Homo sapiens: one gene and its partner. The protein of the gene in region 2 purifies or fractionates together with the protein of the main gene of each other region. This does not show direct contact. Each region holds a gene or a part of one and is shown on either strand. Other genes may lie near its edges.

Region 1 (7,038 bases), on a different chromosome or scaffold from region 2:
TAAAAAAAAAAGAGAGAGAGATCTAGTAATATGGACCCACATTCCTTTTTGAGACAAGTTCTTGTTCTGTCGCCCAGGCTGGAGTGCAGTGACGTGATCTCAGCTCACTGCAACCACAGCCTACCAGGCTCAAGCTTTTTTCTTTTTTTTTGAGACGGAGTTTCGCTCTGTCGCCCAGGCTGGAGTGCAGTGGCGCGATCTCGACTCACTGCAAGCTCCGCCTCCCGGGTTCACGCCATTCTCCTGCCTCAGCCTCCCGTGTAGCTGGGACTACAGGCGTGCGCCACCATGCCCGGCTAATTTTTGTATTTTTAGTAGAGACGGGGTTTCACCGTGTTAGCCAGGATGGTCTCAATCTCCTGACCTCGTGATCCGCCCGTCTTGGCCTCTCAAAGTGCTGGGATTACAGGCGTGAGCCACCGTGCCCGGCCGCGTGGACCCACATTCTTACAAAGCAGCCACTGTTGCCACAACATGGTCACAGTCTCCCCAGTTTTTCCTGGTCCCCTTTGTTTCCTATTGCTCAATGCCAGCTCACCTGCCACCCCTGCAGGGACTCCCTAGCATAAACCAGCCTGGGTGCATAGGAGGCAGCAGGCTCCCCGCCAGCCCCCATCTCCCTAGCCCCCAAGCCCCTTTAAGACAGGAAAAGGCAAACCTTCAGTCCACCCTTGTCATCGGGCAGCACTGGGATGCTCCAGGGCTGTCGGACCTTCGAGTGGGGCAGGGGAGGCTGGTGGCTCGGCCGGCCTTTGTCTTTATTCACCTGCATGCAGACAGATGCCAGCAGTCGAACAAGTTCCGTGTCTATGGACACAAAAGGCATCATTTTACCTGCAAATATGTCTGTTGGGCCATAAGGAGAAGACTCAAGATGACCCCTGTTAGACTTAGAACTCAGCCCTGCAGCTCCAGGGTCTGTGTAATTCCAGAATCAAGGCACCTGCCTCTCCATCTGATCTTCAAAAGGTGGCAAACAAAGCCAGCAGGGCTTAACCTACTTAACCAGAAAGAAAAACCGGAAGTCCTCTCTCATGAGGAAGGCAGGGGGACAGTGTGTTTAAAAGTGCAGGCTTCACAGCCAGGCTGCAGAGGTTCAGATTCTGCTTCTGTCCCTCCCTGGCTGTGTAACTGCAGGTAAATTACAAAGCCTCTTTGTGCGTCTGTACAAGTCAGTGACATTAATACCCACCACATAAAGGTATCTTATCAATTCACGGGAATTCCTTTAGAGCAATACAAGTGCTTTAAAAATACTAAGTATTATGAAGTTATTAGGAACCCAACTCAGTTATATAAAAAAAGCATTGCAAAAAAGATTGAGAAGAAACTACTCCAAACTATTAACAATGCTTTTTCTTGATGACTATTTCTTTTTTTTTTTTTTTGGAGACAGAGTCTTGCTCTGTCACCCAGGCTGGAGTGCAGTGGCACAATCTTGGCTCACCGCAACCTCCACCTCCTAGGTTCAAGCGGTTCTTTGCCTCAGCCTCCCATGTAGCTGGGGCTACAGTGCCCGCCATCATGCCTGGCTAATTTTTGTATTTTTAGTAGAGATGGGGTTTCGTCATGTTGGCCAGGCTGGTCTCGAACCCCTGGCCTCAAGTGATCGACCCACCTCAGCCTCCCAAAGTGCTGGGATTATGGGCGTGAGCCATCCACGCCAGGTTATTTCTTTTTTCTCTCCAAGTATTCAATAATAGGCATGAGTTTCTTCAAAAGTTTTGTGTAAACACTTCATTTAAAAACCCAGTAGGCAAAATATTCCTAGGAATAGACTGTTTTATTGGGAAAGGGAATAAACGGCAGTGGAGGCTAGGGAGAAGAGGAACACTGAAAAGATGAGTTTCTCAGAAAAAGTGTGTATGAGATCCAGCGAGAGTGGCTGCGGACTGATTCCGAATAACAAACTCTTGGCAAGTGAAGAAGGTCTCCAATGAGGTGGAGTAGGATCACTGGACTTGGGGCACAGGACTCCAACCCTCTGGCTGGGACAGATCACTTCCCGAGTCTTGGCGACCTCATCTCTTCAAGAGGATGTGAACCTCTGCTTCCCCTCTCAGACCTCTTTGAGGGTCAAACAGAACCAAGTGTGCATCTGTGAAGTGCAGGGGCCTGCAGCAGGGAAGGGGTGGCAAGGGTGGCAGTGCTGTGACGAGGAAGGGCATGCCTGCTGGCTACCCCTCTAGCTAAGAGGGGCAGCAGGTGACTTGTGACTGCAGAGGTGAAAGTCTTCTCTCCCCACAGCCAACAGCTAGAATCCCAGCACAGGGTTCAAGCCCAGTGGGTCAGAAGGGCCTCGGGGCTTCTCTCTCTCTGGGTTGAAACTCCAGGTTGATAAGAAAGACGACAGATCAGAGACCTTTCCCCTTGAGCTGGCTAACTGGAAGCCCAGGTCCCAAAAGAGGGTCTGTCACAGCAGGGGAGGGTCAAAGGGGAGTAGCAGGTACCAGCCGAGGCCAAAATGGGGTGGAACTAACGGCTACATTCCCAGTACACGACCCTTGACCCTGCAGCCTCTACCTACACAATTAAGCTGAGAAGGCCATCGCTCTATCTCCCATTCTGCTTATCAAAGGGGACTTTATGTTTCCACCTGAGTGACTCAGGATTTCTGGCTGTGAAGCACAGATGCCATTCTAGGGTGTGTGTGGACTGCAAAGTCAGACACGTCTTATTTTCCTTCCCTCTCTAGAGACTCCTAGGAGGTTGGTGCTGGAGGAAGTCCCCGGGGCCACCTGGTCCAAGTCCAGCGCTTCACTGGGGAGGGAAGGAACTTGCCTAAGATCATGCAGTAAGCTCCTGACACTTGAGAGTGACTTTCCCCCACGAATAAGCAAGTGCTTAAAACACAAGTCACAGAGGAGGTGCCTGTCTTGACTCCCAGTCCAAGAAACGCTGGGTAGATTTACAACCCTTTTCTTGAAATTACCTACCGGGATCATTCAGCAGCATCACCAGGTCAAAGGCCGTGTATCCATTTTTTGCACGAAGAGTGACATCGGCCCCTTGGTTTAGCAGATATTTCACAATTTCCTTATTCCTGGGAAAAAATGCTAGAGTTACATTCACTGAAAGCAAAGGCATGGCTTTGCTCCTGGGCAACAAAACCAACATTAACTACAAAGCTCAGTCTCTGAGCATTTAAGAAGGACATGGAAGGGCAAACAGTCTCACATTCTCTCATTCCCTAGCACGTGGGCAGGTCAAGCGGGAACATGATTTAAATCAAAGTCTAAGTGTTCCTTCCAGGAACAAAATGAAGACTGAGGCTAGATGTGGTGGCTCACACCCGTAATCCCATCACTTTGGGAAGCCAAGGTGGGAGGATCACTTGAGCCCAGGAATTTGAGACCAGCCTGGGCAACATGGGGGGCCCTGTCTCTACTAAAAATTTTGTTTAAAAATTAGCTAGGTGTGGTGGTGCAAGTCTGTAGTTCCAGCTACTTGAGAGACTGAGGTTGGAGGATGCTTGAGTCTGGGAGGTCAAGGCAGCAGTGAGCCATGATCACGCTACTGCACTCCAGTCTGGCAACAAAGTGAGATACTGTTGGAAAGAAAAGAAAAGAAAAGAGAAGGGAAGGAAAAGGAAGGGGAGGGGAGGGGAGGGGGAGGGGAGAGGAGACAAAACCAACAGCTCTGCCCAAAAATCACTGACCCCATGGAGACTCCACTTCTTCCACCCTAAATCAGGACATCTCCATTGGGAAAGTCTCCTACAGACCAAGGTGTCTGAAATAAAATTTCGTCTTGGAATTCAAGACTCATCGAATAAGAAAACAAACTGTTTTCAGATGACACAGGAAAGTGATCTGATCACCTAAAAGAGGGCAAGGAAAGAACCTCTAACTGGGAGTCAGATCACTTAGCAGCTACAAGATGCCCACCCCAAAGACGAGGCCTCCAGGAGGATGACAGCCCATCCTGCTGGGATGATCACATAAGAAGGGGTTCATAAGCACCCTGTAAACACTGAAGCCTATTCAAAAGGAGAGGGGTAGGACACATCTCACCATCAATCATCACAAGACGACAATGGTATGAATAACCAATGTTTACTTCATACAGGAGCTACTTAAGGAGGTCACTATATCTCAATGTGAAAACTCCAATGAATCAGTCACTGTGTTCAACTGAAACCAACCTAGAGAACCTTATCTCTCTGCATAAAATGCTCCTGCTGCATGGTTTTTCAGGGCCATTGTGAAATTCTGTGATGGGGGAACAGGAAATCTGGACACAGAAGGGTGGGACTAAAATGAGCCTGTGCCGCTTTTTTTTTTTTTTTCCATGCCTCAATGTCGTCATAGTCCTGGGGTTTGTATGCAGCATCTCAGGACCAGAAGAGCCCATTGGGAACCTCCATCTCAGGCCAGAGCATCTGTCTGGCCTTGTCGCTGAGGGCGTGGGGCTGGCACTGACCCATGGTAGGTTGCCTGCATGAGGGCCGTCCAGCCATGCACGCTGTCCTGCTTGTCAACATCCGCGTGCCTCTCCACCAGCAGCTGCACCAGAGCCAGCTGCCCCGTAACAGCTGCTAGCATCAGTGGCGTCGCCCCGTCCCCATTGACCAAGTTCACGTGGCTGGGGTCTTCATCGGCAATCTCTTTGACCAGCTGGAAGTTTCCTGCAAACACAAGCAGGAGTCCGGGTGAACTGTGGGCCTGGTACCATAGGCTGATTTCTCCTGTGGTTCATGTAACAAACACTTGCTGGCCCTGCTCTGCCTCTGCAGTGGGCTGCTGGGCATCATAGGGGATACTAAGAGGGCGTCAGAGATAGCCCCGACTCTTAAATGCCTCAGTCTAGGCGAGACAGAGACAAACACACGAATGGGCAGAAGTGTTACCAAAAGACAGAAGTGTTGTTAGTGTCTTCAGAGAACGGATGAAGGAGACAGAAGAAGACAGAAGGAGAGTTCAGGTCTCGCTGCGGGGTGAGGATCGGGAAGGGCTTCCTGGAAGCAGGGTCTATATCAAGAGAGAAAATTTTAGGCTAAATGCCTCTTTGTCACAAAGAGACTGGAGTGGGTATGCAGAGAGGCATTTCAGATGCAGGAAGAGCTAGGGCATAGCTAGACAGTGTTTGGCTGGAGTGGGGCTGGAGGCCGTCTGGAGTCTATGTGTAGAGCTCTACAATAAATACTGGCCTCCAGGATCTGAACTTCCAAACACCAAACACCAAAATGCCTGTTTCTTTCTCAAATACCCTGGGTGGCCCTGCAAAGGACTACAAATATTAGGTTGGGAGAATGTAGCCCTATATTCTTAAATATCCAAAAAGATTTTCTAAAGCGCTTACCCATTTTCAATGCATGGAAAATATCAGGTCGCCTTTTCTCCTCATCTGGGTAAACAAAGATTTTTAAAGTTAACCACGGAAAGGTTTAATATAACAGAAAAGTCACAAGGGTGTAACAACACAGCCTGGCTTTAAAAAGCATCTAATTCTCAAAAGCAATCTAATTGGAGACCTACGTAATGGACAAATCCAGCAGCTCTTCTGGAAGGTTTATTACCCAAGAACATCTGAAAACACTTCAGAGACAGATCTTGCCAACAAAACACGAATGAGCAGCAGATCACGGCCCTGATCTCATGCAAATAAAGCAATCATTTTTAGGCAAAACAAACGTTGGCATATCCTTTCTTAGATATACTGAAAAGTCTTGGGGTCTTAGAAAATCCTGGATTCCCATGGACATTGTTTAAAAATTTTTTTTCTTCTAAAAACTAAATGTACAATCATAATTCCAAATCAGAGGACCCCTGAGATATCGAGCAGCTGAGCTCTAAGGAAGTTCACAGCCACAGCCAACAGAAGAGCCAATGCTCATATTTTCTTTCCCTCCCATGTAAGAAGCAATCAGAACATGCTCCCTCCTCCAAACCTGCAGACACAGCTGGCCAAAAGCCGCTGCCCAACTGGGCATCTTCATGCTGTACCCTGAAGCCCAGCTGCTAGGCTGGGGCCGGACCCCATGCCTACCTGCACAGCTGAGCCTTGCTGCAGCCGCCAGATGTTAGCCCCTCCCTCACATGCTCATCCCACACCTTCCTCCAAGCTTGGGCCAGCAGGTACCCCATTCCTGTCAGAGCAGGCATCCTCATGGCCAGTCTGCTTGCTGGGGGGCTGAAGGCAGGCCTTCTGCAGCCTTTAATTGATCCCAGGGGATGGAGCAGCTGCCAGAGGGCACTTGTGACTCTGGGCTGACTCTGGTCGAAATGAGCCCTCTTGAGTAACTGGGAGGAAGCTGCAGCCCAGGACAAGGAGCACAGAGTGTGGAGTCAGTGCACGTGAATTTCAGCGCACATTTTTAGAGTAAGCTGCCTCTTCATCACAAATGTGGGGATAGCATCCCTCTCACCTGGCTGTTGCAGGGATCAAATGATAATGTTAAGGCGCCATTCAAAGAGCAATTACTTTCTTTAGCAACCAGCAAGGTAAACCCCAGAATTCTTTTTTTGAGATGGAGTCTCGCTCTGTCACCCAGGCTGGAGTGCAGTGGCGTGATCTTGGCTCACTGCAACCTCTGCCTCCTGGGTTCAAGTGACTCTTGTGCCTCAGCCTCCCGAGTAGCTGGGATGACAGGCACACGCCACTACACCCAGCTAATTTTTGTATTTTTAGTAGAGACGGGGTTTTGCCATGTTGGCCAGGCTGGTCTCAAACTCCTGACCTCAAGTGATCTGCTCGCCTTGGCCTCCCAAACTGCTGAGATTGCAGGTGTGAGCCACCGCTCCAGGCCGGAACTCCAGAATTGTTTTTTTTTTTTTTTTGAGATGGAGTCTTGCTGTGTCTCCCAGGCTAGAGGGCAGTGGTGAGATCTAGGCTCACTGCAACCTCTGCCTCCCGGGTTCAAGCGATTCTCCTGCCTCTGCTTCCAGAACAGCTGGGATTACAGGCACCCACCACCGCATCTGGCTAATTTTTGTATTTTTAGTAGAGATGGGGTTTCACCATCTTGGCCAGGTTGGTCTCGAACTCCTGACCTCGTGATTCACCCACCTCCGCCTCCCAAAGTGCTGGGATTACAGG
Region 2 (7,038 bases):
TGGGCTCCCCGCCATCCCCCGACTTCCCCTTCCCAAGGTATATGTGACACCCACCTGGCTGATGTCAGTGAGGCTGCCATGGCCTAGGCACCCATTGCTGCCGCTGCCGAATGTCATGATGATGCCTCTGTCTGGGGAGAAGGGCAGTGAGGAAGGAGAAGGGAAAGAAGTTAAACAGTCTTTCCAGATAGCCCGGTCCTCCAGTGGGTTGCAGCAGCAAAATAAAGTTGGGGACCAGGGCTGGAAGGATGGGATAGGAAGAGAGAAAAGGATATGAGTCCCTTCAAACATATGTGACTTTGGACAAGTGACACCCTCTCTGAGCCTTAGCGTCCCCACTTGTCAAATGAGGATAATATAATAACTGCCTTGCCAGGCCTGTCCGTAGGGTAAAGGAGGTTGTATAAGGAAATCTCCTCAATAGTTACTAGACAGAAGCAATAACTCGATAACTAGTAGACAGAAGCATTCATTAAGTGCGTGTTTTGCAAGAGAAGAGAGAAGGTGCTCTGTGGGGCCTCAGAGCAGGTCCCACAAGGTAGGCCCGACAACTCACCAGTCAGGCAGGCAGTGAAGAAGTCCCCACAGGCCACGTGCTTGATGGTCACACCCGACTGGCCCTCCAGGAAACGCGAGATGAACTGGGGCTGTGGCTGCTCCACTGCCCCAGGAAGGAGACTGCCTCCGCCTGCACCTAGGGGTGGGGCCTGCAGGGGCAGGGGGATGGGCAGCGCCTGAGCACCCCAACCCTGCTGTGGACCTCCACCTCCACCCATCCAGGCCACCCCCTGGCCTGCTCACCTCCCACAGGATGAGACGCCCAGAGCGCGTGACGCCGGCTTTCTGCGTGCGCCCAGCTGCCACCTGGACCACCTCTGTGTTGAGCATTGGCAGCCGCAGGGGGGTGCCCAGCCCACCACCCCAGGCATACACTGACGACAGTGGTGGTGGGATGGCTGGCCTCACAGGTCCCCGGGGGATACCTGCAGGTACAGTGCATGGGGACTATTAAACTGATGGGAATGGTGTGGCATCCATGGGGACTGGCGGCCTCTTCCCACTTACCTCTGCAGCGGACACTGGTGGTCCTGCTCCCTGTGTTGCTGGGGGCCACGGACTTCTCTGCCCTGCAGGACAGATGGGGGCCTAAGGACAAAGACCCTCCTGACATTCCTACATGCAGGAAGGGAGGACTTGCCCCAGGTTTCCCTCTGCCTCAGACCTCCTGTGCTCCCACTGGGTGCCCACACCCTGCCGCCCAGGACCGCTCGCTGTCCCTGCACAGGCCTCCGCATGCGGACACTGCCCACGTCGGTGTGGAGGTTGAGGAGGGCACGGATGCAGAGGGGCTGTGCCATGATGTGGCTGAGTGGTGGCCGCTGGGCAGGCTCCAGGCTGAGTAGACTCAGGACCAGCTGGCGAAGCTCAGGGCTGTACCGGTCAGAGATAGGTGCAAAGGTGCCACTCATGATCTTCAGCACCAGTGCTGGCAAGTTCTGTGAAGGCACCAGGTTGAGAATTTGGGGAAGTGAGGGCAGCACCCCCCAGCTCCAGCCCCTGGTCTCCTGGGATAATAACAGCTTTGCCTGGAGGCATCATGCTACCTGACTTCAAACTATACTACAAGGCTACAGTAACCAAAACAGCATGGTACTGGTACCAAAACAGAGATATAGACCAATGGAACAGAACAGAGCCCTCAGAAATAATGCCACACATCTACAACTATCTGATCTTTGACAAACCTGAGAAAAACAAGAAATGGGGAAAGGATTCCCTATTTAATAAATGGTGCTGGGAAAACTGGCTAGCCATATGTAGAAAGCTGAAACTGGATCCCTTCCTTACACCTTATACAAAAATTAATTCAAGATGGACTAAAGACTTACATGTTAGACCTAAAACCATCAAACCCCTAGAAGAATACCTAGGCAATACCATTCAGGACATAGGCATGGGCAAGGACTTCATGTCTAAAACACCAAAAGCAATGGCAACAAAAGCCAAAATTGACAAATGGGATCTAATTAAACTAAAGAGCTTCTGCACAGCAAAAGAAACTACCATCAGAGTGAACAGGCAACCTACAGAATGGGAGAAGATTTTTGCAATCTACTCATCTGACAAAGGGCTAATATCCAGAATCTACAAAGAACTCAAACAAATTTACAAGAAAAAAACAACCCCATCAACAAGTGGGCGAAGGATATGAACAGACACTTCTCAAAAGAAGACATTTATGCAGCCAAAAGACACATGAAAAAATGCTCATCATCACTGGCCATCAAGAAATGCAAATCAAAACCACAATGAGATACCATCTCACACCAGTTAGAATGGTGATCTTTAAAAAGTCAGGAAACAACAAGTGCTGGAGAGGATGTGGAGAAATAGGAACACTTTTACACTGTTGGTGGGACTGTAAACTAGTTCAACCATTGTGGAAGTCAGTGTGGCGATTCCTCAGGGATCTAGAACTAGAAATACCATTTGACCCAGCCATCCCATTACTGGGTGTATACCCAAAGGATTATAAATCATGCTGCTATAAAGACACATGCACACGTATGTTTATTGTGGCACTATTCACAATAGCAAAGACTTGGAACCAACCTAAATGTCCAACAATGATAGATGGATTAAGAAAACGTGGCACATACACACCATGGAAAACTATGCAGCCGTAAAAAATGATGAGTTCATGTCCTTTGTAGGACATGGATGGAGCTGGAAACCATCATTCTCAGCAAACTATCGCAAGGACAAAAAACCAAACACCGCATGTTCTCACTCATAGGTGGGAATTGAACAATGAGAACACATGGACACAGGAAGGGGAACATCACACACCGGGGCCTGTTGTGGGGTGGGGGGAGGGGGAAGGGATAGCATTAGGAGATATACCTAATGTTAAATGATGAGTTAATGGGTGCAGCACACCAACATCGCACATGTATACATACGTATCAAACCTGCACGTTGTGTACATGTGCCCTAAAACTTAAAGTATAATAAAAAAAATAAATAAATAAACAATAACAGCTTTGCCCTCAGGAGACTTCAGTCTGATGAGGAGACTCCCAGACTGACAGGGGAGTCCAACCTGGCTTTCAGTGATCCCTAGTCTGATAGGGGAGCTGCAGCTATATCCTCAGAAACCCCAGCATGCTGGGAAAACTCAAGTCTTGCTCTTGGGAGGGTCTTCTGGGAAAGCCACAGCCCTGCCCTCAGGAGCCCTCCGTCTAATGGGAGGCAAGACCTACTCTCAGAAATCCATAGTCTGAGGGACACCCATAGCCCTCCCCTGGGGTAATCTGATAAGGGAGAGACATGACTCAGCTAGAGGAGAAACCTGAGGTGGCTTGAGCCAAGGGCTGCTGGGCGAGGCAGTAGATTTCTCAGTTGTCCCCTGGAGGGTGCATACACTCACCGCAGCCTCGAAAGCCCTCTTGAGGCTGGCCAGCTCGTAGAGGACACAGCCCAGGGCCCAGATGTCACTCTTCTGGTTGTAGGGCTTGCCCTCACACAGCTCAGGGGAGATATAGCATGGGGTACCCACCACCTGCAGGATAGAAGCTGGGATCACAGCCCTGCAGGGAGGGAAGACCAGGGGCTCTGTGCATAAGCCCATTTGGGGACAGCTTCTTCTCAAAGCAAGCCAAGGGGCTTCCTCCTGCAGAACCACCCAAACAGGGGCCAAAGGGCCAAGGGTTTTTTAGGGGGAGGGGAGGAGGCAGGGTTAGGTCCTGGCCCTCAAGACTTCTAGTGCCCTGGAGGTCCCTTCCATGCCCAGGCACCGTGTAGGCCTTGCTCTTGCTGCTAAGGATCTTGGAGATGCCGAAATCACCGATCTTGACGACCATGCGGTGTTTGTCAAGCAGGATGTTCTGGGTCTTGAGGTCTCGGTGCAGGATGAGGTGGGTGTGCACATGATGCAGTGCAAGCAGGATCTGCACGAAGAAGTGCAGGATGGTCTCCTCCTCCAGCAGGGAATTACAGCGCTTTTGGATGAACTCAGCCAGAGTGCCGCCTGTGGCCCAAGGGACTAATCAAGATCCAGGCTTTCTCACACCTACGACAACCCCTCTCCATTGTTGTTGTTGTTTTTTTTTTTTGAGATGGAGTCTCGCTCTGTTGCCCAGGCTGGAGTGCAGTGGCATGATCTCAGCTCACTGCTGCAAGCCCCCCCTCCCGGGTTCAAGCCATTCTCCTGCCTCAGCCTCCTTAGTAGCTGGGACTACAGGTGCCTGCCACCACACCCGGCTAATTTTTTTTTTTTTTTGTATTTTTAGTAGAGACGGGGTTTCCCCGTGTTAAACAGGATGGTCTCGATCTCCTGACCTCATGATCCGCCCGCCTCGGCGTTGGCCTCCCAAAGTGCTGAGATTACAGGCATGAGCCACCGTGCCCAGCCAACAACCCCTCTCCTTTTATGTATGGAACAGGGCACTGGGACCAGAGAGGACAAGGGGCTAGCCGGGGTCAGATAATTGGGACCAGAACTCTAACCCTTGGCCATGCCCATTCCAAGGAGGGAAGCCAGGAGATCTGTGTCTGCCTGTCCCAGAGGTAAGAGGCCCTCCAGCCAGGCCACTGTAAGGAGGCTGGCCCACCTGGTGCATATTCCATGGCGATCATAAGGGCTTTGTCTTCCAGGAAGTTCTCGTAGTACTCAATGACATTGGGGTGGTTGAGCAGCTTGAGGACCTGGCACTCATTCTGGGCTGCCTGCCGCTCTTCCTTGGTCATCTGTTCCACTGGAATCTGCTTGATGATCACCAGCTTCTGGTCAGCCTTTCGCAGGCACAGGTGCACAATCCTAGGGATACGGAGGACAGGGACAGGTTACCAGCTAAGCCTCCAGCCACATATCAGGCAGGGCGGTGCAGCCTAGTGACTGATGTCTCTTGGAAGAGGGTTCTAGACTGAGAGGTCATCTAACCAAGCGCACAGAACACTGAACTTGGGAACAGGGAGAACTGATTACAAGCTGTGTGGGACTTCAGTTTCACCACAGGCACTGTGAGGTAAAGTTAGTCTTGATCTCTAAGTTCCCACAGACTGCCTGGGTTCAAATCTGGGTGCCTCCTCTTACTAGTTATCTGGTTTGATACATTATGTGACATCATTGTCTGGAAAATGAAATGGGCCTCCCAGGGTTGTTGAGAGGATGGAATGAGAAAATGCATGTAAGGCACTGAGTGCAGTGACCAGCACAAAGAAAACGCTCAATGAATAGAAGCCATTCATATTATTTTATTTTAATTCTGTGGTTAGTCTCCATAAAAGCAGGGACTACAACATTCTTGTTCACCACAATAACCCCAGTGCATAGCCCAATATTTAGCACACAATAGGCAGTCAATAAGTATTTGTTGAATGAGTGGACTATAAGCTGATCTAAGTCTCAAATTTTTACCTCCAGATCAGGCTTCTCTTCTGAACCCTAGACTCAGATATCCACTTGAATGGCTCACAGTCATCCTAAATTTTAACAAATTCAAAATAAAACTCTTGATTCCTGCCTCCAAACCTTTCCTTGCTCAGTCTCTTCCATCTCAGTAAATGCTACCATCATCCTCCAGTTATTAAAATCAGAAACTGCTAAAATCAGAAACCTGAGGCAGGGCCAAGTGGCTAAGGCCTGTGATCTCAGCACTTTGGGAGGCCAAGGCAGGTAGATCACTTGAGTCCAGGCGTTCAAGACCAGCCTGAGCAACATGGTGAAACCCACTCTCGCAAAAAAAAAAAAAAAAAAAAATTAGCTGAGCATGGTGGCAAGCCTCTGTGGTCCCAGCTGCTCTGGAGGATGAGGTGGGAGGATCACCTGAGCCTAGGACATTGAAGATACAGTTAGCCATGATTGCGCCACTGCACTCCAGCCTGGGTGACCAAGTGAGATGGTCTCAAAACAAAACAACAAAAAAACAGACACTTGAAAATCAGCCTAGGCCGGGCGAAATGGCTCACACTTGTAATACTAACACTTTGGGAGGCCGAGGTGGGTGGAGCATTTGAGGTCAGGAATTTGAGAACAACCTGGCCAAAATGGTGAAACCCCATCTCCACCCAAAATACAAAAATTAGCTGGGTGTGGTGGCAGGCGCCTGTAATCCCAGCTACTCGGGAGGCTGAGGCAGCAGAATGGCCTGAACCTGGGAGGTGGAGCTTGCTGTGAGCCGAGATGGCGCCACTGCACTCCAGCCTGGGCGACAGAGTGAGACTCCACCTCAAAAAAAAAAAAAAAAAAAAAAAAGAAAAGAAAAAAGAAAATCGCCCTAGAATCTTTCCTCCATTTCACACAAGCAAATCCTATTTCTACCTCTGCAATACTGTAAATCCATCCAATTCTCTGTGCCCTCTCTACAGCCCTTGCCCTATAGTCATCATAATTTCTCGCCTAAAATACTGTATAACTCTCCAAAATGGTCCCTTTCACTCCTGTCACCCTCAAATCTAAATTCTACATGAACCAGAATGACATTTATTTTTTATTTATTTTTCTTTTTTTTATAGATATGGGTCTCACTATGTTGGCCAGGTTGGTCTTGAACTCGTGGCCTCAAGATATGCTCCCACCTCGGCCTCCCAAAGTGCTGGGATTATGGGCATGAGCCACCATGCCCAGCCCCAGAATGCAATTTAAAAATCTTACTATCCTGGCTAACACGATGAAACCCCGTCTCTACTAAAAATACAAAAAATTAGCTAGGCATGCTGGTGGGTGCCTGTAGTCCCAGCTACTCGGGAGACTGAGGCAGTAGAATGGCGTGAACCCGTGAGGCGGAGCTTGCAGTGAGCCTAGATTGCGCCACTGCAGTCCAGCCTAGAAGATAGAGCAAGACTCCGTCTCAAAAAAAAAAAAAAAAAAAAAAAAAAAAAAAAAAAAAAAATTGGGGCCAGGCGCGGTGGCTCACGCCTGTAATCCCAGGCCTTTGGGAGACTGAGGCAGGCGGATCACGAGGTCAGCAGATCGAGACCATACTGGCTAACATGGTGAAACCCCGTCTCTACTAAAAAATACAAAAAAATTAGCCG

The links.
Region 1: the proteins of NEK8 (region 2) and ANKS6 purify together in Homo sapiens (affinity purification with mass spectrometry; 2 studies listed by BioGRID and IntAct, with this or other methods). This does not show direct contact.

What each region holds. Positions count from the first base shown.
Region 1 is NC_000009.12:98,779,531-98,786,568, forward strand, and holds part of ANKS6 (ankyrin repeat and SAM domain-containing protein 6), read right to left. Parts: intron 5,347-7,038; coding exon 5,302-5,346; intron 4,628-5,301; coding exon 4,423-4,627; intron 3,044-4,422; coding exon 2,937-3,043; intron 808-2,936; coding exon 659-807; intron 1-658.
Region 2 is NC_000017.11:28,731,764-28,738,801, reverse strand, and holds part of NEK8 (serine/threonine-protein kinase Nek8), read right to left. Parts: intron 4,820-7,038; coding exon 4,614-4,819; intron 4,031-4,613; coding exon 3,798-4,030; intron 3,563-3,797; coding exon 3,431-3,562; intron 1,497-3,430; coding exon 1,288-1,496; intron 1,128-1,287; coding exon 1,066-1,127; intron 984-1,065; coding exon 802-983; intron 708-801; coding exon 557-707; intron 132-556; coding exon 55-131; intron 1-54. UniProt on the Homo sapiens protein: Required for renal tubular integrity. May regulate local cytoskeletal structure in kidney tubule epithelial cells. May regulate ciliary biogenesis through targeting of proteins to the cilia.